6 linked regions of the Homo sapiens genome follow. The protein of the gene in region 2 purifies or fractionates together with the protein of the main gene of each other region. This does not show direct contact. Each region holds a gene or a part of one and is shown on either strand. Other genes may lie near its edges.

Region 1 (4,092 bases), on a different chromosome or scaffold from region 2:
TGATAATGTCTCTATGAACATCTTGGCTTATATGGCTTCCCACTCCCAGTTATCCTTAATTGATATGGCAATAGCAGGACCGCTACAGTAGCATTTCTGGGTCAAAGAGCATGAATGGATTCTGATACATACTGCCAAAACAGTTACACAATAACATCAACTGTAATTTGGCTACTTAATTGAAGCTCTCTATTGCCTAAGAAATGTATCTCATAGCACCTTCCTTACCCCACACATACACACTAATTGCTGAAAGAAGCCTACTAACCTGGAAACATCTAACACTGTCAGTTTAATGGACAGATTCTTGTTGTCATCACCCTATCAGTAACACCTCGTAAAGACACATACTTCATTTCCAGCACCTCCTATACTAGCAAGGGACCTACATGTCAGGCACTTCATACATTTAATACCAAGAGAAACTCCACTAGGGAGGGACTATCCTCAGTTTACACGAAAAGAAGCTGAGGCTTGGAAAGGTGAGGTGCCAAATTGAAAGTCACACGGCTAGTAAAACATGCATTCGTGTTTCAAATCTGACTCCTTCTAACCTTTCCCTAGTACCAACACCACTTCACTTCTGGCTGTTTCTACTTGCTCATTAAAGATTCTGTTGCTGCTAGGCTGGGCCTGGGGGCTAACACCTGTAATCCCAGCACTTTGGGAGGCCAAGGCGGGCAGATCACGACGTGAGGAGTTCAAGACCAGCCTGGCCAACATGGTAAAACCCCGTCTCTACTAAAAATACAAAAATTAGCTGGGCATGGTGGCACTCGCCTGTAATCCCAGCAACTGGGAGGCTGAAGCAGGAGAACTGCTTGAACCCAGGAGGCGGAGTTTGCAGTGAGCAAAGATTGCACCACTGCACTCCAGCCTGGGCAACACAGCAAGACTCCATCTCAAAAAAAAACAAAAAACAAAAAACCTGTTGCTGCTATTGGAACAAGTGACAAGCAACAGCTTAGTCAGGGTTGAAATCCTACTGTTCAGCAGCATCTCCAAGAAATCCATTTTGTCTACAAATGGAGTGTGACAATACTCCCTTTTGATGCTGTTCACTATGCAGCCCCAGAGCCCCTAACAGTTCCTGGCATAATAAATATCTGTTGAAAGCATAAACCACCTGTGTTAGGACATGAGCCAAAGAGGTTCACCTTCCCATGGAATGGTACCTGTTCCAACTTAACAGAGTCCATTGATAAAATGATTCACTCAATTTTCATTTAAGTGAAGGCTGTGCTTTTTTAAAGAGACACACAGTCTCACTCTGTTACCCAGGCTAGAGTGCAGTGGCAGGATCATAGCTCACTGCAGTCTCAAACTCCTAGCCTCAAGTGATCCTCCCACCTTAGCCTCTCAAAGTGCTGGGATTATAGGACAGAGGCACCATGCCCAGCCCGGCATGTGCTGTTTAATACAATTTTTGTTAACAAGATGACAAGGCAGTTAAGTTAAACCCAACACGGTATTCTGGAAAAAAAAAAAAGTGCTAAATCAAGGATAGAAAAAAAATAATGAATTTACACAATAAAAAAGAAAATAATTTTGACTAAAGAACCAACCAACCCAGAACTCAATGCCTAGAACAAGACAGACACACACTGAACAGCCTGGTTTCAAATCCTACCCCTATCACAGATCACCTGAAGCTCAGGAGTTTCAGACCAGCCTGGGCAACATGGGGAAACCTCGTCTCTACAAAAACAACAAAAAAAACAAAATTAGCCAGGCATGGTGGTGTGAACCTGTAGTCCCAATTCAGGAGGCTGAGGCAGGAGAATCGCTTGAGCACAGGAGGCAGAGGTTGCAGTAAGCTGAAATAACACCACTGCACTCCCGCCTGGGAGACAGAGTGAGACTGTCTCAAAACAAAAAGAAAAAAAAAAAAAATGAGGCTGGACACAGTGGTTGATGCCTCTGGTCCCAGCTACTTGAGTGGCTGAGACAGAAGCAACACTCAAGCCCAGGAGTTGGAGGCCTGGCGGCTGCAGTGAGCTATCACTGCGCCACTGAACTCCAGCCTGGACAACAGAGCAAGACCCTGCCTCAAAAAAAAAAAAAAAAAAAAAAAGGCAACAAACCCTACAATGGCTGGCTATGCTCACCACCACGACCACAGCAGCAACCCAAACCCAGCCCTAGTCAGTGAAGATTTAAAAACCCTTTAACAAAGGCCAGGTGTGGTGGCTCCCACCTGTAATCCCAGTACTTTGGGAGGCCGAGGCGAGCGGATCATCTGAGGTCAGGAGTTCGAGACCAGCCTGACCAACACGGAGAAACCCGTCTCTACTAAGAATACAAAATTAGCCGGGCATGGTGGCGCATGCCTGTAATCTCAGCTACTCAGGAGGCTGAGGCAGGAGAATCTCTTGAACCCAGGAGGCGGAAGTTGCAGTGAGCCGAGATCTCGCCATTGCACTCCAGCCTGGGCAACAAGAGCGAAACTCTGTCTCAAAAAACAAACAAACAAAAAACTAACAAACACACTTCAATGGTCCCCCGTCACCTTCTGCAGAATACACATTCCTACCAATTCAGGCCCTGTCTACTTCCCCATACTCATTCCCACTCATGCTCTTCTGCATAACCTTCCTCTGGACCTCAGTTTCATCATCCACAAACTAGAAGACAGTGGCTACCTGAGAAACTGTTAATGGAGACAAATTTCCTAGTACATAACAGCAGGCCAGGTCTCTTTTCACTTTTGTAACTGCCATGCATATAGACTACATCTATTCCTTGATATGAAACCAACAAATCAAGTTACTTTAAACACTGCACCCTTTATACAGGTTGAGTATCTCTTATCTGAAATGCTTGGGACCAGAAGTGTTTCAGATTTTAGAATATTTGTATAAACATGATCAGGTATCTTGGGGATGGGACCCAAATCTAAACATGAAATTCATTCACGTTTCCCACACATCTTATTCACATAGACTGAAGGTAATTTTATACAATATTTTAAATAATTTTGTGCATGAAACAAAGTTTTAACTGTGATCCATCACGTGAAGTCAGGTGTGAAATTTTCCACTTGTAACATTAATGTCAACACTAACGGAGTTTCAGAATTTGGAGCATTTGGATTTTTGATTTTGGGATCAGGAGTGCTCAACCTGAATAAGGAAAGACAATGTAGAGAGGTGGTATTATAAACAAGCTAGAGTTCAGTCAAGTTTCAGCACCACAAATTATTTTTGTTTATCAATCCCTATCACCCTTAAAACAGAAAGTTATAAGGAACTATCAAATATACAGGTTTGAGGAAAATAAATATCTGTTTGTTTTAAATGTTATGTTCAGTTTAATACTAGTCTTATAAAACCACAGCCCGAAGACTCATCCAGAAGGTTCTCTCACTTTTAAAAGGCAATCAAGGGATCTATACAACCTGGTGACTATAGTTAACAACAATGTATCACATAATTGAAAAATTGCTGAGAGTAGATGTTAAGTGTTCTTGTCAGAATCAGTATACCACCTAATGTGAATTAACTTGACTTAGCCATTCCACAATGTATAGTACTTCAAAACATCGCATTATACATCATAAATATAATTTTGTGTTAATAAATAATAACTAAAAATAAATAAAAGACAATCAAGTTAAATTATGAAAGGGATACCAGGCAAAAGAATGTTGTAAGTTTTCTAAAGTTCAGGTTCCCTCCCAAGGTCAAAAACTTTAACTGTGTCTACAATTCTAAATCTGAACTGGCAAGCAAATTTTCACCCAGTTAATTGGGTCGAGGAAAAATAAAATAAAATAATTCCCATGATTACACAAATGTTCTTTTATTTATATTAGTCACTGTAACAATCCTATTTATGGATTAATTTCTTTGTACCCCAAACAACTGTTTTCTTATGAAATTTTTAAAGATTTTTGTAACAAAATATAACCTTAAATTCCTAATTTTGAACTGAAAACATCTACTCCATAGCTAGAGTAACTATAAAATTGGGCCATGGCCAGGCACGGTGGCTCACGCCTGTAATCCCAGCACTTTGGGAGACCAAGGCGGGCGGATCACATGAGGTCGGGAGTTCGAGGTCAGCCTGGCCAACGTGGTGAAATTCCATCTC
Region 2 (4,092 bases):
CCTCTCTCAGCACCTCTGATCATTAAATATTCTCAGGACATAAGAATACCGGACATTCGCATCCATTCATTCATTTGACAAACATGTTGCTTACTACAGACACTGAGCATTTAGTGTATTTGTGGAATAAGGAAAAATGAAAAGGCCTTGACATCAAAAAATTTAATAAGAGAAAAGTCCAGTAAGAGAAGTAGGAGGGTATACAAATAACTAGTATAAGAAAGAATGTGATGAATGGCATACAAGACATTAAAATGATACGAGTCCAAAGGAAAGAGGGGTTACTTTCATATATGACTCCAGCCTTTTTGAGGAAGTTAAGTGAGCCTTTGAAGAAAGTCCAGAATAGGTCAGGTCAAGAGGGAAGGGAAGTGCATTCCCAATAAAGAGGACACAGGAACAAATAGAAGTGAAATTCCACAGAAATTGTAGGGGTTGAAGAAGAGGGAAGAGTTAAAGATGACCTTGAGTCATCAAACCTGTGGAACCAAGAGAAGGGTAGTGCATTTGGGGAAGGAGATGAAACTTTCTGAGGATAAAATGATGTGTTTGGCTTGGGCAATGTCTAGTTTGAGGTGCTAATACTGGTGACATGTCTGGTAAGAAAATAAAAGTGGTATCTGAGATTGAAGGGAGGGGATGAGCAAATTCAAGAGGAAAAGGCACAGAGGTAATAGTCAAAGTTGCAAGAGTAGAGAGAGTGAAAGCAGGGTCAAGGGCCAAGCTTTGGAAACCATTAGAGATGAAAAAAGTGGGATCTGTTCGCTTCCAAAAGAGGCGTTAGCAAAACAGAGGTAGAACCATGGGTGAAGAGGGGGAAAATAAACCAAAGAACTCCTCACTTTAAGCCAAAAGTCAAATGTTTCTTAGACAAATAGGTGAAGGCAAAGAAAGAAATATGTCAAGACAAAGAAAAGCTACTTCCATTCTTTTTTTTTTAAAGATGTTACTGGATTTGATACTTGAAATTTCTTCTAAAATACCAGGTTATCATCAGTGCATAGATTTTTAGAAACTCAAAAGGGCAATACTTGCCTTTAAAAGAATGAAACATGGGAAGAGAATTAAATCTTTCTGCCAGTTTGGTCCAGAACATGACCAAACTGAGGAATTTAAGCTAGGCTTTGAAGAAAGGCCAGATTACTATAATGGTTTGTGTGGCAATGTTTGCACTGGAAATTTCTACTTTTTTTTTTCTAGATTTATACTATAAATACACATTTTTTGTGCATTACTCAAGTCCTTATTATTCTACTTAAAAAAAAATCTCAAATTATACTTTTTCTCCCTGTCCTCATGGGTAAACACACGGTGGGTTTCCCATATGTATTTAATATTCAATATAGTTAATATTGTCTTCTTTGTACCTGAAGCAATGATAGTTATCCTTTCAAATTTATATGCAATGACATATTATCTCACTGTGGCATTTCAGAAGTCAGTCTTCACCAATGCTTCTTCCTGCTAAGCTATGTTACTATTACTAAGATTCAGTCTGACTTCAAATTCTCAGTCCTTCCCATTCTCTACAGACAGACAACAAAATTATTGAGTGACTATTGTACTTTAGCCATGGTGTTAAGTCCTAGGAATGAATAAGCTTTGTCTTCTGCACTCCCAGAAGGACTAGCGGAAAAGAACTACACATAATTAACTGGGATACACTGGTGAACATTAGCTGTGGAAGCACAAGGAGCCTGATCCCTTTCTTCATGAAATTTCTCAAACTCCCTTGGATTCTTCAACTCACTGCCAAAATCTTCATCCGACTACTTTATCCAGCCATACTACTAGCTGGGAATTTGAAAACATTTCTCTTTCTAACTTCCCTGTCTTCCATTCTGTTCTCTTAAATGGATCTTAGCAAGTATCATCAAATTCAAGAATTGATGCACCATTTTGATTTAGTCACTTCACTTCTTCAAATCCTCATAAATGTCCTGTTATCCCATAATCACCATACAGTGGAAGAGGGCCTGGCTTCCTGTTCTGAATTTGCCAAAAACATGCTGTGTGAATTTGGATAAATTATTCAACTTTTCTGAACTTTGAATCCTTCATCTCTAAAATGGATTTGATGGTTCCTAATATCCTTGCTAGCTCTAAAAATTAAGATGGGTGAATACATCCCAAGTTCCCCTACAGCAATGTTAATTTCCTTTATACTAGGTACTAACCTCCCTCTGTTGACCAGTACTGTCTCCAGCAAGAGTGTTTTTGTCCTTCTTTGCTCCTTTCACACACAGAGTACAGCCTGCAACTTCCCCTAGATCATTCATATTTACTAGAATCCAACTCCAAAACATTTTTGTAACTTTCTTTACTCAATGGGATATAATTCAGACTAACCTTAAATCTTAACTAACCTTAAATCTTCACACAGCAACCACACATAGTACAGTGTAAAATCCAATTCTTATGAAACTCTTCTTATAATGAAAATGCAATGGCCTTCTAATTTTTTAAAAAAGTAATACACTACCCTTCTAACAGATAAAAATGGGGGAACATTTAAATGATTTAAATGTCACAGGGGATTAACTAACTTTTCATGTATAGGAGTCATATCTCTTTTAAGTTTTATATACTCATAGTCTTTTTTTTAACCATATTATAATAGTTACACATTAGGTGATTTTCCAGAAAGGTTTGCTGATGTCTATTATAGACTGTTTCAAAACTGATTTCATAAATTGACCACCACCCAATCTGGTAATATATATATTCTGCTGGGGTTTTTTGTTCTTTTGTTTTTTCAGTACAACTTAACAGCTAGATACACTCCAAGGTCTTTAATGTGTATTTGCAGTAGGTCCTGCAAACAGCAAATAGTTAGTTAACAAATTTGCATATACTTGTTTTGCATTTCTTTCTGGATGAATTAATGCAAATTCCATCTGTTTCACTGAAGGTAAAAATATCGGTTCAAATTTTCCACTTTTAATCTACTATGGATTCCTTCGGGTTGTCGTTCATATTCTCTTCAAATTGTATTTTACATGAAACAGGTCTCCTTAACCAAGGATAGGTTCTGGAACAGAATTTTAATGTCAAACTGAATGCTATATGTGTATATACGTATAGATGTTTGGGCCTCTAAGCTTTCACTATAAAATATGGGAGATAGTTAGATATGACTAATTTATATAATTATGATTTATATCAGTATCTATCTATCTATCTCCCATATTTTATAGTGAAAGATTAGAAGGCCAAACATCTAGAAGCTGGGAGGGAAAACTAAATAATATTCATCCTACTTTAACAAAGGTGTTTACATTCATCATGTTGACAGAGCAATTGTTATAGTACACCCAAAGGGATAAACTGGCATCTGTCCATGTTTGAACACACTGAATTAACGAACTTCTGAGCTATTCAACTGAAATATTGAGCACTTCATTTCCACACCATGTAATATAACACTTGGAATAATGAATAAGGACTGATCTGAGATTTTGTTGAATATTTAACGTTACTATAAGCCTTGTAGCTGATAATGGCATATATATATCAGCAGGCACACTCAATACCAAGCAAAAACAGAGTTATGTCAACAGAGGAGACAGAATCTAGGAACATAGCAGTTTTAACAAATCGTATGTGGACATATCACAGGAATATGAGACTTTCATTATTAGAGGAGGAAGCATTAACATCTACTCATTACTCCTTGATAAGTTCCATATCCTGCAATAATACAAACCCCAATCACATACCATTTTATACTATTCCACAATAAAGCTGTTTATATTTTGAGAGTACAGAGTGTATTTCTATAGCATTTGAACAATGATCAGCCATAGGATCAGCCATAAGATCCGTTGGTAATTCTATACATTTTTATTTTTTCCATTTATCACTTTAAAGTTTCAGAAACTAGCTTCATTAATAATAAAATTTGAAATCATTATACAGTTGTCATTTATTATTATAAAAATTATCTTACCCCACTTAAAATTACATATTTCTGTGCATTTTTATTTTCTGAGCACTAGTGTAAGAGAAAAAAAGTGTTTTGAATGAAAATTTCATGTAAAGCATATTTTAAAAATGTAATAGCCTTACCAAGATCTAAATGTAAAAAGCATT
Region 3 (4,092 bases), on a different chromosome or scaffold from region 2:
CGCCACCATGCCCGGCTAGTTTTGTATTTTTAGTAGAGAGGGGATTTCTGCATGTTGGTCAGGCTGGTCTCGAACTCCCGACCTCAGGTCATTCGCCAGCTTCGGCCTCCCAAAGTGCTGGGATTACAGACGTGTACCACCACGCCCAGCGTTTTTTTTTGTTGTTGTTGATACCAGAGATGCCATCTTCTTGCTGAAGAACTAATATAATGGGAAAGTTTTATGTGATTCCGCCTACCTTCTCCATGCCCAGCAAGACGATAGGCTGGTTAGGAACTGGCAGATGAGACAGTCAGCATCCCAACAATCTATTAACAGGTGCCATATTGACACATTTTCTTTACATCCTCTCCCTGTGGGTTCTTTCTTGGCTCCTAAGCACCCCTGTGTGAGCAGAAGCATAGCAGAATGTCCAATAATTACAAAGAGAAAAATTGGAGTGAGCCCTGACACAGGTTTGATTAGGTGAAAATGTAATATCCTATATTAATGTCTCACCTGCTACTTTTTAGCGCTGCCTAGAAAGTCCCTGGAAACAATGAGAAGGAAAACAGCATGTTTATATGAATTGTATTGACACCATGATGAAAAGTTTAAAGACCTCAAATTGTATAATGTAGAAGCATAGAGTATGAAGGTCGCTAGCCAACCAGCAAAAATGATTTGGTGTTTGTATATGGGAGGCTGGGATGTAGTGTTTTTTTCCTGGTGCTTAATTTTTTTTTTTTTTTTTTTTTTTTTGAAACGGAGTCTCACTCTGGTGCCCAGGCTGGAGTGCAGTGGCGCGATCTCGGCCCACTGCAACATCCATCTCCTGGGTTCAAGTGATTCTCCTGCCTCAGCCTCCCAAGTAACTGGGATTACAGGTGCGTGGCACCACACCCATCTAATTTTTGTATTTTTAGTAGAGATGGGGTTTCACCTTATTGGCCAGGTTGGTCTTGAACTCCTGACCTCAAGTGATCCACCGGCCTCAGCCTCCCAAAGTGTTAGGATTACAGGTGTAAGCCATCGCGCCTGGCCTGGTGCTTAATTTTGGTGTTAAGTGATAGGTTTTGGTTGCTAACCTAATTGTATTGTTCCCATCATTGGCTAAGGTAAGCTTGGGGAATTAATTGTAGAATTACTCTTTGGAATGGGAAACCTATTCTGTATCTTTTTAGGGGTGTTTATAGGGATGTGTATGTGTTATCTCTCTCTTTTTTTTTTTCTGAGATGCAGTCTCACTCTGTCACCCAGGCTAGAATGCAGTGGCACAATCTCGGCTCAGTGCATCCTACGCCTCCTGGGTTCAAGTGATTCTCCTGCCTCACCCTCCCGAGTAACTGGGATCACAGGCATGCACTACCATACCCGGCTAATTTTTGTATTTTTAGTAGAGACGGGGTTTCACCATGTTGGCCAGGCTGGTCTCAAACTCCTGACCTTAGGTGATCTGCCCACCTCGGCCTCCCGAAGTGCTGAGATTACAGGCGTGAGCCACCACGCCTAGCCTACATGTGTTATCTTTCATAGAATGATACACTCCTAGAGAGTCAATTTTACTCTGGGAATTTTTGAGACAGGGTCTTTCTCTTTCACCCAACCTGGAGTGCAGTGGCACAGTCTAGGCCCATTGCAACCACTGACTCCCGGGCTCAAGCGATCCTCCCACCTCAGCCTCTCAAGTAGCTGGGCCTACAAGTATGCGCCACCACACCTGGCTAATTTTTTATATTTTTAGTAGATACGGGGTTTCACCATGTTGGCCAGGCTGGTCTCGAACTCCTGAGCTCAAGTGATCTACTTGTGTCGGCCTCCCAAAGTGCTGGGATTGCAGGTGTGAGCCACTGCCTGACCGGGATAAATTTTTAAAATGAAACTTAAATGACTGGGTGCAGTGGCTCACACCTGTAGTCCCAGCATTTTGGGAGGCCGAGGTGGGTGGATCACCTGAAGCCAGGAGTTGCAGACCAGCCTGGCCAACATCGCGAAACCTCGTATCTACTAAAAATACAAAAATTAGCCAGGTATGGTGGTGGGTAATCCCAGCTACTCGGGAGGCTGAAGCGGGAGAATCGCTTGAACCTGGGAGGAGGAGGCTGCAGTGAGCCAAGATCGTGCCACACTGCACTCCAGCCTGGGTGACAGAGCAAGACTCTGTCTCAAAAAGAAAAAGAAAGTCACACACAAAAAAATGTGCTAAAAACTGATTTTTTTGGTGCTTTGTATCACCTTGCTCTGACAGTCTCTTTCCTTCTCCAAATTTGATAATGCTCTTCTTCTGCTTCTGATACGTCAGTATTTCTTGCAACATCATTGTTTCAACCCAGAGCTCTTGTGGTTTCTGGGATTAGCTGCCACAAGTTCCCCACACATGTCAAACTAAGAGCTCTCCATGCCAGTATCAGCCCTCAGAGTGTTAAACAGGAGAGGGGCTGTTTTAAGAGTGGCAGTGAATGCTTGGCATGTTAGTCTGTGAATTTTGTATGAAAACCACTTTTACAAACTATTGTTTTAGAGCTGAAGTTTTCTCAGCAGGTCACCTGATACCATGCTCTCCCTCCAGTTTTTGTAAGACAGAGTCTGGCTGTGTTGACCAGGTTGATCTTGAACTCCTAGGCTCAAGCAATGCTTCCGCCTGAGCCTCTTGAGTAGCTGGGACTATGGGTGCACACCACTGTGCCCAGCTTCCTTTTTTTTTTTTTTTTTTGAGTCAGGGTCTCACTCTGTCACCCAGGATGGAGTGCAGTGGCACGATCACAGCTCACTGCAGCTTCAACCTCCTGGGCTCAAACGATCCTCCCACTTCAGCCTCCCAGGTGGCTGGAACTACAGGCCTGTGCCACCATGCCTGGCTGATTTTTTTGAGACGGAGTTTTGCCCTTGTTGCCCAGGCTGGAGTGCAATGGCATGATCCCGGCTCACTGCAACCACCGCCTCCCAGGTTCAAGCAATTCTCCTGCCTCAGCCTCCTGAGTAGCTGGGATTTCAGGTGTCCGCCACTACGCCTGGCTAATTTTTGTATTTTTAGTAGAGACGCGGTTTCTCCATGTTTGCCAGGCTGGTCTCGAACTCCTGACTGCAAGTGATCCGTCCGCCTCAGCCTCCCAAAGTGCTGGGGCTACAGGCGTGAGCGACCGTGCCGGCAATTTTTTTGTATTTTTTATAGAGATGGGGATTCACTGTATTGCCCAGGCTGGTCTCAAACTCCTGGAGTCAAGTGTTCCAACCTGTCTTTGGCTGAGATTACAGGTGTAAGCCACTATGCCTGCCCCACCTCGATTTTTTTTTTTTTTTTGAGACAGAGTCTTGCTCTGTCACCCAGGCTGGAGTGCAACGGCACTATCTCAGCTCATTGGACCCTCCATCTCCCAGGTTCAAGGATTCTCTTGCCTCAGCCTCCTAAATAGCTGGGATTACAGGCCCGTGCCACCATACCCAGCTAATTTTTGTATTTTTAGTAGAGACGGGGTTTTGTCATGTTGGCCAGGCTGGTCTCTCAACCTCAGGTGATCTTCCCACCTCGGCCTCCCAAAGTGATGGGATTACAGGCATGAGCCACCACGCCCAGACCGCCCCCCGCCCCCACCAATTTTTAATCCAAGTTGAAACGTGTATTTAAAGTCAGCCCTCTTGGCTGGATGTGGTGGCTCATACCTGTAATCCCAGCACCTTAGGAGGCTGAGGCGGGTGGATCTCTTGAGGCCAGGAGTTCGAGACCAGCCTGGCCAACATGGCCAAACCCCATCTCTAGTGAAAAATACAAAAATTAGCCAGGTGTGGTGGCACATGACTGTTGTCCCAGCTACTCGGGAGGCTGAGACAGGAGAATTGCTTGAACGCGGGATGCAGAGTTGCAGAGAGCCGAGGTCGCACCACTGCACTCCATCCTGGGCAACAGAGCGAGACTCCATCTCAAATCAATCAATCAATCAACCCTCTTAATTTTTTTTCTACCTGTGGCCACCTCTCCTCTTGTCTGATTTTCAGTTATTTCTGACTAGTGAAACACAGTTGCATCAGTATCAGGGCATTGATTGCTCAATTGAATAAGTCATTTACTGGCCTTTTCTTGTATGTCAGGGGCTGTTTTGGTTTGAGCATGGAGCT
Region 4 (4,092 bases), on a different chromosome or scaffold from region 2:
CACCCGAGTAGCTGGGATTACAGGCACGTGCCACCGTGCCCAGTTAATTTTTTTTTTTTTGAGACGGAGTTTTACTCTTGTTGCTCAGCCTGGAGTGCAGTGGCACGACCTCAGCTCACTGCAATCTCCGCCTCCTGGGTTCAAGTGATTCTGCTGCCTCAGCCTCTCGAGTAGCTGGGATTACAGGCATGCGCCACCACGCCTGGCTAATTTTGTATTTTCAGTAGACACAAGGTTTCACCATGTTGTCCAGGCTGGTCTCAAACTCCTGACCTCAGGTGGTCTGCCAGCCTCGGCCTCCCAAAGTGCTGGGATTACAAGCATGAGCCACTGCACCCAGCCTAAAATTCCTTTTAGAGATGGAGTCTCACTATGTTGTCCAGGCCAGCCTTGAACTCCTGGGCTCAAGCGATCCTCCCGCCTCAGCATTCCAAGTAGCTGGGATTAAAGGTAAGTGCCAGTGCAGCCAGCTGCTTCTTTTAATATAACTACTAAAATTTTTTTAAATTGCAATGTGCAACTCATGTTATATTTCTGTTATTCAGCAAGGCCCCAGAGCTCAGAAACCATGACCAATACTACTTCCTCTCTGTGGCCTTCACAGAATTTTCTCAATTTCCTGCATGCAGAGAGTGGCCATAAATATTTTTTCCTCCATTTAGTTAGAGCCGGGCCCACATCCTCAGAGCTCACAGTCTGAGGTAGAAAGGGCACATTGGGGCCAGGCACGGTGGCTCATGCCTGTAATCCCAGCACTTTGGGAGGCCGAGGCCGGCAGATCACTTGAGGTCAGGAGTTTGAGACTAGCCTGGCCAACATGGTGAAACCTCGTCTCTACTAAAAATACAAATATTAGCCGGGTGCGGTGGTGCATGCCTGTAGTCCCAGCTACTCATGAGGCAGGAGGATTGCTTGAACCCAGGAGATAGAGGCTGCAGTGAGCCGAGATCGCGCCACTACACACCAGCCTGGGCAACAGGAGCGGAACTCTGTCTCAAAAAAAAAAAATAGAAAAAGAAAAAAAAAGAAAGGGCACATTGGTTGTATCCTGATGGGTTGAGAGCAGCTGCTTGGAGTACTGTGTTCAGAAAGATTCTGGCCGGGTGCGGTGGCTCACGCCTGTAATCCCAGCACTTCGGGAGGCCGAGGCGGGTGAATCACTTGAGGCCAGGAGTTTGAGACCAGCCTGGCCAACATGGTGAAACCCTATCTCTACTATAAACACAAAAATTAGTCAGGCTTGGTGGCATGTGCCTGTAATCCCAGCTACTTAGCAAGTTGAGGCGGAAGAATCACTTGAGTCCGGGAGGCAGAGGTTGCAGTGAGCCAAGATTGCACCACTGCACTCCAGCCTGGGTGACAGAGTGAGACCCTGTCTCAAAAAGAAAGAGAGAAAGATTCTGAGGCTGCATGCTGCCATCGTTGATTGGTAATGCTTGGCCTGGGCGAGGTGTGGGGTGCTGCCAGGTCCCTGGCAGTGCTGGTCTGTTGGCCACTTGTATAGAGAAAGCTGAGGCTCAGAGAGAGCAAGTAACTTGCCCCAGGTCACACAGTGAGCCCAAAGAGGTGGCAGGATTCAAGCCTGGGAGCCTGGAGCTCATTTTAGCCTCTTGCCACACTGAGCTGAGCCAAGTCCAGAATTCTGCAGTTAAAAGCTGCCCAGGGTAGGGACAGACAAGGACAGGGTGGGGAGGGCAGGGTGGAGGGTGTGGGTGTGTCCTCACTCTCTTGAGATTGCACCATGGAACCACTCGGGGACCCCGTCTTGGGCCAGCTGGCCCATCTGGGTGTGCACAAACCAGTCCAGCCGTGGGGGTAGCGGTAGGGGCAGCTTCCCGGCCTCTGTCATAGCTTCCTGGGGTGGAGGGAAGGTCACCTGGGTAGAGAAGGGAGGGAAGACAAGAATCAAGCTTGATGCACCTCTTATCTTTGCTCTATTCTTGAAGCTTGTGGTGCCTCCTCCTTTGAGAAGTCCTCCAGGGTGGACAGAGCAATGGACTTAAAACTGGCTTGTGGCTGGGTGTGACGGCTCACATGTGTAATCCCAGCACTTTGGGAGGCCAAGGTGGGAGGATTGCTTGAGCCCAGGAGTTCCAGACCAGCCTGGGCAACATAGTGAGACCCCCATCTCTACAAAAAATTAAAAAATTTGGCCAGGTGCGGTGGCTCACGCCTGTAATCTCAGCACTTTGGGAAGCCAAGGTGGGTAGATCACCTGAGGTCAGGAGTTTGAGACCAGCCCGGCCAACATCATGAAACCCTGTCTCTACTAAAAATACAAAAATTAGCTGGGTGTGGTGGTGGGCACTTGTAATCCCAGCTACTCCGGAGGCTGAGGCAGGAGAATCACTTGAACCCGGGGGGCAGAGGTTGCAGTGAGCCAAGATCATGCCACTGTGCTCCAGCCTGGGCGACAGAGTGAGACTCCTCAAAAAATAAATAAGCAAATAAATCAATAAAATAAAATTTAAAAATTAGCTGGGTGTGGTGGTGCATGCCTGTAGTCCCAGCTACTCAGGAGGCTGAGGTGGGAGGATCCCTTGAGCTCAGGAGGATATGGCTGCAGTGAGCTGTGGTTGTGCCACTGCACTCCAGCCTGGGGAACAGAGCAAGACCATGTTTCAAAAACAACAACAACAAAAAACTGGCTTGTGTGGCTGGGCGTGGTGGCTCACGCCTGTAATCCTAGCACTTTGGGAGGCCAAGGCAGGTGGATTACCTGAGATCAGGAGTTCAAGACCAGCCTGGGCCACGTGGTGAAACCCTGTCACTACAAAAATACAAAAATGAGCTGGGCACAGCGGCCTGTGCCTATAATCACAGCTACTTGGGAGGCTGAGGCACGAGAATCACTTGACCCCAGGAGGCGGAGGCTGCAGTGAGCCGAGATTGCACCACTGCACTCCAGCCTGGGCAACAGAGTGAGACTCCGTCTCAAAACAAAACAAAACAAAACAAAACAAAAAAAAAACCACTGGCTTGTGATTTTTTGGGCACCTACTATGTGCCTGATAGTTTTTACACATTCATTCATTGGCTCATCCCCAAAGGCCTTCAAGGACTTTTCCTTTTATTCTTCTTATGCCATTGTGTTTTTTTTCTTTTTTTTTTTTTTTGAGACAGGGTCTCACTCTGTCACCCAGGCTGGAGTGCAGTGGCCCCATCTTGGCTCACTGCAGCCTCGACCTTCTTCCCTCAAGTGATTCTCCCACCTCAGTCCCCCAAGTAGCTGGGACCACAGGCATGTGCCACCACGCCTGGCTAATTTTTGTATTTTTGTAGAGATGGGGTTTCACCTTGCTGCCCACATTGGTCTCAAACTCCTGGACTCAAGAAATCCACCTGTGTCAGCCTCCCAAAGTGCTAGCATTACAGGTGTGAGCCATTGTGCCCAGCCTTTTATGCCATTATTGCAAGGACTAGAAAGTTCATTTTATAAATAAATGTTTTGAAATTTAAGAATAGAGTATTTAGAGCTGGGCATGGTGGTTCACGCCTGTAATCCCAGCACTTTGGGAGGCTGAGGCAGGTGGATCACCTGAGGTCAGGAGTTCGAGGCCAGCCTGGCCAACATGGTGAAACCCCATCTCTACTAAAAATACAAAAATTAGCCAGATGAGGTGGTGGGTGCCTGTAATCCCAGCTACTCAGGAGGCTGAGGCAGGAGAATTGCTAGAACTCAGGAGGCAGAGGTTGCAGTGAGCCAAGATCGCGCCATTGCACTCCAGCCTGGGGGGCAGAGTGAGACTCCATCTCAAAAAAAAAAAAAAGAGTAGAGTATTTAAATATTAAGTAAATATCAAGGCCCCTGGAGGAATAAGGAAATGACAAAATGGCAAGTGAACGAAATAAACAGCTGACCCAACGGTGGTGGTCAAAAAGGGTTGCCCTGATTTCTTTCTTTCTTTTTTTTTGAGACAGGGTTTCCCTCTGTTCCTGAGGCTGGAGTGTGCAATGGTGCAATCACAGCTCATGCTCACTGCAGCCTCAACCTCCTAGGCTCAAGCAATCCTCCCACTTCAACCTCCTGAGTAGTTGGGACTACAGGCATGCAGTACCATGCCTGGCTAATTTTGAAAATTTTTTTGTAGA
Region 5 (4,092 bases), on a different chromosome or scaffold from region 2:
GTATCAATGTTTTTATTATTTTATTTCTGATGAAAGTAAATGTATATACATAAAACATCAGTTAATCCTAGATTTCAATTAATGAATTACCAGTTAGCTGAATTTGTTCTTCATTAGAATTCTGGCATCCAGTCATTCCTATGCCTACATTAGTAGCAGAATGATGATTTGAATATACAATGTATATTGAATATCAACCCTTAGACTATATTGAACAGCAGGAAACCTTGACATACAGCAAGGGGAAACTCTTCTCATTACATGTTCCTGTTCCACATAAATAGGAGACAGTACAAAGAGCACTTCCTTAGACAACACAATTCCATAAATAAATAAAAGTTATGTTTTCAAAGAATATTTAAGAACCTAAGAACTTGCATATCATAAAATGGTATTTTTTTTTTGCCGGTTATAAAACGAAATATTATACAAAACACATTTTGTTGAAAAAAGTCTTAAAAAGTACCTACAAAGCATAAACAGTATTGGATTAATAGGTGATTTTTATTTTCTTTTTTCTAAATTTGCCTTCAATGAACATACATTACTTTCAGGGGAAAAAAGTTAAAGAAACTAAATCATTAACATAAAGGACAAATCTGAGAAAGTGTCAGAATACAAAGAAGTGGCATAGAGATGAAAACAATAACAGAAGATGATATGGAAGACAGAGAGATAAAATATAGGCCCGGCGCAGTGACTCATGCCTGTAATCCCAGGACTTTGGGAGGCGGAAGCGGGCAGATCACTTGAGGTTAGGAGTTTGAGACCAGCCCAGTCAACATGGTAAAACCCCATCTCTACTAAAAATATAAAAATTAGGCCAGGTGTGGTAGCTCACGCCTGTAAGCCCAGCACTTTGGGAGGCCGAGGTGGGCAGATCAACTGGGGTCAGGAGTTCAAGATCAGCCTGGCCAACATGGCAATACACTGTCTCTACTAAAAACACAAAAATTAGCTGGGCATTGTGGCCCATGCCTGTAATCCCAGCTATTCAGGAAGCTGAGGCAGGGAGAACTGCTTGAACCTGGGAGGTGGAGGTTGCAGTGAGCCGAGATCATGTCATTGCACTCCAGCCTGGCAACAGAGAAGACTCCGTCTCAAAAAAATAATAATAATAATAAATAAATATACAAAAATTAGCCAGGCATGGTGGCGGGTGCCTGTAATTCCAGCTACTCGGGAGCCTAAGGCAGGAGAATCTCCTGAACCCGAGAAGCGGAGGTTGCAGTGAGCCAAGATTGCGCCACTGCCCTCCAGCGTGGACGACAGAGCGAGACTCTGTCTTAGGGAAAAATAAAAAATATATATATAATAAAGAGTTCTCAAAAAACTTACGATAAATGGATCAGAAACAGTAATCAGACACATAATACAATAAAATATTCTTGATCTAAAATAAATAACCAGTTCTGAGATGGAAAGCTATTACTATGTTCTAGGTATACAATTAATGACAACTAGGCAGAGAAAACACATTAATGATAACGGAACAAAAAGAGAATGAGAAAGAGTCTGAGAATGGCCTCAGACTTCTCCATAATCCTAAATACTAAGCAAGAGTCAGTGGAGTAGTATTTACAAAATTGGGAGTGGAACAGTTAGTGCCCCAAGAAGGCTACGCCTACTCAAGTGTGACAGCACAGAAAGAAATTATCAGGTGTACATGAGCTAAGGTAAAATAGCATTTATGCTACCCTTTTTTTTTGAGATGAAGTTTCGCTCTGTCACCCAGGCTGGAGTGCAACTCCTGACCTCAAGTGATCCTCCTGCCTTGGCCTCCCAAAGTGCTGGTATTACAGACACGAGCCACCATGCCCGGCTACCCTTCTTGAAAAGATTGCTTGAGTGAGGCACTCAGCTAATTGAGAGGTAAGTTTAAACTAAAAATTCACGAACGGGAAAACTGTGGTATAAAAGGGCGACTGACACTAATTTGACATAGAAAATTATATATAACTACAAAATTAAGCAAAATAAAAATTTCGAGAAGATAAATGATTTAAAAAATAACATGAATGTATAAATTTGATTGAAAAATAAGAAAATTGGCAGGAGAAAAAGGGAAGGGAAGAGCTAAGCGAATGTTCGTTAAATTCCTAAGTTACTACTTTGTTCTGGACTTTGATAAGAGAGAAAGTTTGAAATAAGCCATTTTAGTTTTGTTTTGTCAAATAATTTTAAAGTTGATTTAGTGATGGTTGCTTGTAATGAAGACATCGTTCTGTCAGACAGCTGAATGCTGGTGCACCTTTGTTACTTAAAAAAAAAAAATCCATATCCCAACAAACACCTCAACTACAAGTGTGCCTGTCACTGTGATGTCAGCATCAGGAACATTCCATGGCTGCAGGCTGTAATAAGCCAATTGAGAACAATCCACATATCATAAAAAGCTTATTAAAGTTACCCACAAGAAAGACGACATTATACAATCTTATAGTTTATCACATGGACGTACAGAACATACATACCTGCACACTGGCTGTTACCACTGAAGACCCTGAGGCAGTGGATGGTCTATGTGGAGTAGACAATGGTTTGGTAGCACCCTGTGTTCCACTTCCTGTTCCCCCAGACAGACTAGTCCTATTAGCTCCGCTTGAGTTAAGGTTGCTACCTCTGCTGGCAGGTACATTCATTGCAATTCCACTCAAGCTGTTCTTCCCAACAGTTCCAGTGGATGATGAGTTTGTTAGCTTTGAGGGGGCCTGAAGATTTTTTGTAGGTGGAAGGCCTGAAGTGCGACTAGAGGGCAATAAATTCAAGGTGGGAGACTGTCTGCTGATGTTCATTCCACTGGGCTGTTTATGGACTGGGCTGTTAGTGCTGGAGTGGCTACCCTGGGCAACTAGTGCATTTGGACTGGAACTACTTGGGGATACAGTAGGCTTGGGAGTTGGGTTGGATTTAGAAATAAGTTTAGTTGATACTGAAGGCTTAGCTGACAGAGAGGGCTTGGGTGAGGCAGAAGGCTTAGGCGAGGGCAGGGGTTTAGGAGATGTGGCAGGCTTGGGAGATGCGGCAAGTTTTGGGGAGGCAGCCATCGAGAAGGGAGATTTGAAACCCTGCGTGGAGATCTGTGACACCATAGCCTTGGCTAAATAGTTACTGGAGGTAGTGGTGCTAGGTACTGTCCTAGAAACCAGGGGGTGGGACCCTTGAGAACCATTTCCAGGTGAGGGGGTAGATAAGGGAAGGCGGTACATAAGTGGCTTATCTGAAGTCTTAATAAGTGAGGAGGAACAGGAGAGTTGGGGATTATTACTTAACTTCACGACGGGGTTGGTCTGGGATTTACTGATGGTGGCCTGTAATGGAGACACATAGTTCTGCTGGACAGCTGAATGCTGGTGCACCTTTGTTACTTGTGTTAACGAAGAAGCATCTTGGGCCTCGGATGTTCCCAGAGCATGAGAAGAGGCAGCAATTTGGGCTTGGGAAGAAGAGGAGACATGGGTCTGTGAAGAGGAAGAAGTGTGAATCTGGCTTGACCTCTGAAGTCCTTGTTGAAGTAGCCTGGCTGGCAAAGGTTCTAAAGAAACTTTAGGGTTCTGAATGGAAGAACCAGCAATAAGGCCTGAAGAGATGCCAGTATGAGCTAAATCCTGGGGTTTCTTTGGTACTGGCCCTGTGTGACCAGCAATAAGACTTGAAGAATGTGTAGTCTGAGTAGAATCTAGTTTTTTGGGAGTAGCTAGTGGCAGCTTACTCATGATACTTGCTAATTTTTCTTCTCTCAGTCCTGGACGAGGCTTTGTGGTTGGCATGCTTATCCTTGAGCCAACTGGAGGGCCCTTGTTCCCATTGTTGATAACCGCTAAAGCTTCAGAAACAAGATCCAGTGAAGGTGAATGGAAAGAAAGGTCTTCATCTAGTGAGTCGTCGAGGCAGATGGTTTCTTGGGCTGGTGCAGAGCTAGAGCTAGCTGCAGCAATGGCAGCTGTGCTGGAGCTCGTTGGAGGACCGCTAACCGAAGCCACCAGGGATGTTGGAGTTTTCTGGTCCTTTTTTGGACTACACTCCTAATGTAAAGCATCATATGGAAAAAAATAGAAATGGTGAATAAAAAATTACAAAGTTAATTTTAAA
Region 6 (3,615 bases), on a different chromosome or scaffold from region 2:
GGGAAGGCAGCCTGGAGGGTGGCAGAGCCGCTCAGGATGACCATATTGAAAGTGGGTCCTGAGAAATCAGGACACTTGGGATGCCAGCCATTCCAGCATGCAGCCTCAAGAGCATGATATTCTCGCCCTGGGTCACCTAGCTGGAAGAAGGCTCTGGTGTCCCCACCTCTGCAGGTCCTGACACCTCCTGGCCAGAGACCATGGTGGAGGCGCCGTGGCTGGGGTCTGGCCTCGGAGAGCCTGGTGGTTTTCATTCCCCATGAGCCTCACGGATTCCCCATGAGCCTCATGGATGCCCCATGATCTTTACACTTAAACAGCTTATGTGCCTCCTTGTCACCGAGGAAAAGTGCAACCTCCCAGATTCTGTCTTTCAGTTCTTGCCATGCAATTGCAAAGCTAGTGATTCAGTAAACATTTCCATTTCTCTATGCTGGGAGGTGGGAATCCAATTTACAGTTTAATCTCCTGCATGCTGAGAGAGGCTGTCAAAGACCTGACAGGGGGACGTTGCTTTAGCGGTAGGGGTTCAAGCCTGCTGCCGTCTTTAAAGCTTTATTCATTCTAAGTAGCCAATGTGGGAAATTTCTGGAAAGAATGCAGCCAGGATACCAAGCCTATTCTATAAGCAAGTAGAGGCCTTGCGTCCCCACTTTCCTTCGCTTCCTCCTGTTTGAAGTGGGGCTTGCACTGCCTCTCCTTGGAGCTTTCCAACATGTTCAGAGCCCTGTGTCCTGTTTCAGGTTGAAAGGAGAAGACCAGTCTGAATTGGTGACGACTGTGGACAAGGTGGTCTGCCTGGAATCTGCCCACCCCCGCATGGGTGTTGGCTGCCGCCTGAGCCGGGCCTTGCTCACTGCTGTCACCAACGTGCTCATCTTCTTCTGGTGTAAGTCCTCGGCCGCCTTCCCTCCCCTTCTGTGCAGTCAAGCATACTCCTAGGCATGAATGATGAGCTATAGAAATTCCAGGCCCGGAGGGTTCATTTCTGTCTAGTGAACCTGAGGTCTGTCTCATAAAACAGAGGAGATGAACAAGTCAGCCTCTGCCCTGGGTTGTATTTACCTTTGGAGATTGGTGGCAGGAATCCGTGAGGATAACTAGAAAATGTCCTTGATTCAGGGCAGGGGACTGTCAGATTTCCTGAGCGGGAGCCTGGCCTGAGCAGGAGCTGGGCCCCACCCCTTCTGGGCTCTGCAGGGATCCCAGTGTGGACCAGCTTCGAGCAGGAGGCACAGCAGGGGCTTGGCCTACTTTTACTCCCTGAAAAATATAAACATCTCCTGGAGAGCTACAGATACCTGATGAAAGCAAGAAGGACTCAGGGTGCTGCACTGAAAGGAGGGCACCAGTCTTATCCCCTGACATCGGGGGCCGCCTTTGAGCAGAGACCTCAGGGCGTCTCTGAAGGCGAAAGGCCAAGTCACAGAAACCACGGCTTTCCAGAGATAGTTGGAGCTACAAATCACAGACCGCCTCAGTGTGCACACAGCTCCCTCCCCTGTGCCATCAGGCACAGAAATCATTATCGGCAGCAGCATCTCGGAATACAAAGGGCCCCGGCATGTATATATGTATGAAACACTGTGTTCTGGTTCACAAGGGAGGAGATGAAAGCCCCAGAATGAGGTTGGGAGGAGCCGAGATCTGGACGGCTGGGGATGCCGCTGTGGTGACAGCCGGTGGGAGGAAGATGATCACTTAATAATCTGTCGTCCCTCTGCATTTCTGTATCTTTTGTTTCTCGCATGCTGGCCCTGAGCCTGACACATAGTAGGTACCCAAACCCATGTGGTGGATCCCCCACAGCATCCATCACAGCATCTTGTCCATGGTGAGACCCACTGCCAAATGAAGTGTGAGGGATTAACAGTGTTTTGTTCCCTCACAGGCTTGGCTTTTTTGTGGGGGCTCCTAATTCTCCTAAAATATCGGTGGCGAAAGTTAGAAGAGGAGGAACAAGCCATGTATGAGATGGTGAAGAAGATTATAGGTGCGTGGCCCCCTGGTGAATAAAGGGTTGCCGACGCCAGCCAGAGGGTCCTTGCCCTAAATGGTGTGCTCTCTCCTGCAGACGTGGTCCAGGACCATTACGTGGACTGGGAGCAGGACATGGAGCGCTATCCATATGTAGGCATCCTGCACGTGCGCGACAGCTTGATCCCTCCACAGAGCCGGTGAGTCCCTGGCTGGGGCGCTGGGTGTGAGGTAAGATGGGGTCCGACCCCACTGAGCTCCCCAGAAGGAAACCCAGAGCCTTGCATCAGATGTCAGCTGAGGGCAGTGCAGACCCCAGGGCCAAGAGTGGCTCTGCTCCCACTCCTGCTGCTCCCCAGCATGCTCGGCTCTTTATGGCAGGATGAGCTAGAAAAGACATATGAAAGCACAATCCCACACCTCTGTAGAGAGAACACTGGCAGTGGTGATACCAGTTAGGAGGCCTTGGGCTCCAAGTAATAGCAGCTCCCTCCCCCAGGGCACAAGTAGTGAAGGATCTCCTCAGTCTCTGTAAGTGGAAGTTCAGAGCTGCATGGGCTCCAGGCACAGAACAGTCAGGTCTCCGGTTCCATTGCTCTTGTGATTCTCGTGGTCCCACACTCCTCCATGGATGTTATCAACAGACTGGGGTCCCTCATGGTTGCAGATGGTGGCCAACAGCAGCTGGGGCACTGTCTGCCTTGTCACAGCCAGCAGGGGAAAAGTAGGCCTATTGTTGTCTTATAAGCAAGAGAACATGTTCCCAGTAGCCTCCAGTGACACACTCCTTGAGGCTTTATTGACCAGAATCTCTTACATGTCTGTTTATGAATCAGTCACTGGCAAGGAGGAGGAAATTGTTTTTCAAACTTTTTAAACCATGACCTGCAGTCAAAAACACCTGTTACCTGCAACATCATGGTCCAGTTCCCACACACGCATGCGTACACTCATGCATATACATGTAATTGAAAGCAAAGTTTCACAACATGAATGGGGTCAGCTTCCAGGGCACATAGCTTCATGGGAAGGGGTGGCAGGGCCACTGTCATGTGCAGCTGCAGGGCACCTTCCACATGGGCTGTGACTGCTGGAGTTGTACACTGGGGTCCTGACAGAACCAGGGTGGGGGAGGGCAGAGTCCCAGGAGACAGCCAGCAGGGCCCCCCCCAGTGTTGGCTCTGGTTGTGGTCCCTCCCTAGCAGACACTTGCTGTGGTTTCTGGCCAGATGCTGTCATCTGCTGGGTGATGCTGAGAGCTCACCCTTGCTGAGTGCTCCCTGGGAGCCGGGCACTACTTGGAGCTCTCCACAGATGCAAACTCACTCACTTGGTCCTCACCATGGTTCACGCACACAACAGAAGTGGCCCCATTTTACCTATAAGGGAACTGAGGCACAGGGAAGTAGAGGAATGTGCTCAAGAGTCCCATGGCTAGTGGCATTTCCGTGCTCCCGCCACCAGGCTCTACTGTCAACATCATCCCTATCTGCAACCCAAGAGGAATCAGAAAAATAGAGCCGTTAGCAGTCCACTTTAAGTCAGGCACAGTGGCTCACACCTGTAATCCCAGCATTTTGGGAGGCCAAAGTGGGAGGATTGCTTGAGCCCATGAGTTCAAGACCAGCCTGGACAACA

The links.
Region 1: the proteins of MKX (region 2) and NAP1L4 purify together in Homo sapiens (affinity purification with mass spectrometry, with the first as the bait; one large-scale study listed by BioGRID). This does not show direct contact.
Region 3: the proteins of MKX (region 2) and BEND3 purify together in Homo sapiens (affinity purification with mass spectrometry, with the first as the bait; one large-scale study listed by BioGRID). This does not show direct contact.
Region 4: the proteins of MKX (region 2) and HSH2D purify together in Homo sapiens (affinity purification with mass spectrometry, with the first as the bait; one large-scale study listed by BioGRID). This does not show direct contact.
Region 5: the proteins of MKX (region 2) and UBN2 purify together in Homo sapiens (affinity purification with mass spectrometry, with the first as the bait; one large-scale study listed by BioGRID). This does not show direct contact.
Region 6: the proteins of MKX (region 2) and LEMD2 purify together in Homo sapiens (affinity purification with mass spectrometry, with the first as the bait; one large-scale study listed by BioGRID). This does not show direct contact.

Annotation. Positions count from the first base shown.
Region 1 is NC_000011.10:2,982,116-2,986,207, forward strand, and holds part of NAP1L4 (nucleosome assembly protein 1-like 4), read right to left. Parts: intron 1-4,092. UniProt on the Homo sapiens protein: Acts as a histone chaperone in nucleosome assembly.
Region 2 is NC_000010.11:27,735,455-27,739,546, forward strand, and holds part of MKX (homeobox protein Mohawk), read right to left. Parts: intron 1-4,092. UniProt on the Homo sapiens protein: May act as a morphogenetic regulator of cell adhesion.
Region 3 is NC_000006.12:107,108,631-107,112,722, reverse strand, and holds part of BEND3 (BEN domain-containing protein 3), read left to right. Parts: intron 1-4,092. UniProt on the Homo sapiens protein: Transcriptional repressor which associates with the NoRC (nucleolar remodeling complex) complex and plays a key role in repressing rDNA transcription.
Region 4 is NC_000019.10:16,146,508-16,150,599, reverse strand, and holds part of HSH2D (hematopoietic SH2 domain-containing protein), read right to left. Parts: intron 1,877-4,092; 5' UTR 1,850-1,876; coding exon 1,725-1,849; intron 1-1,724. UniProt on the Homo sapiens protein: May be a modulator of the apoptotic response through its ability to affect mitochondrial stability. Adapter protein involved in tyrosine kinase and CD28 signaling. Seems to affect CD28-mediated activation of the RE/AP element of the interleukin-2 promoter.
Region 5 is NC_000007.14:139,282,957-139,287,048, reverse strand, and holds part of UBN2 (ubinuclein-2), read right to left. Parts: intron 4,026-4,092; coding exon 2,475-4,025; intron 1-2,474.
Region 6 is NC_000006.12:33,775,516-33,779,130, reverse strand, and holds part of LEMD2 (LEM domain-containing protein 2), read left to right. Parts: intron 1-743; coding exon 744-889; intron 890-1,891; coding exon 1,892-1,993; intron 1,994-2,074; coding exon 2,075-2,177; intron 2,178-3,615. UniProt on the Homo sapiens protein: Nuclear lamina-associated inner nuclear membrane protein that is involved in nuclear structure organization, maintenance of nuclear envelope (NE) integrity and NE reformation after mitosis.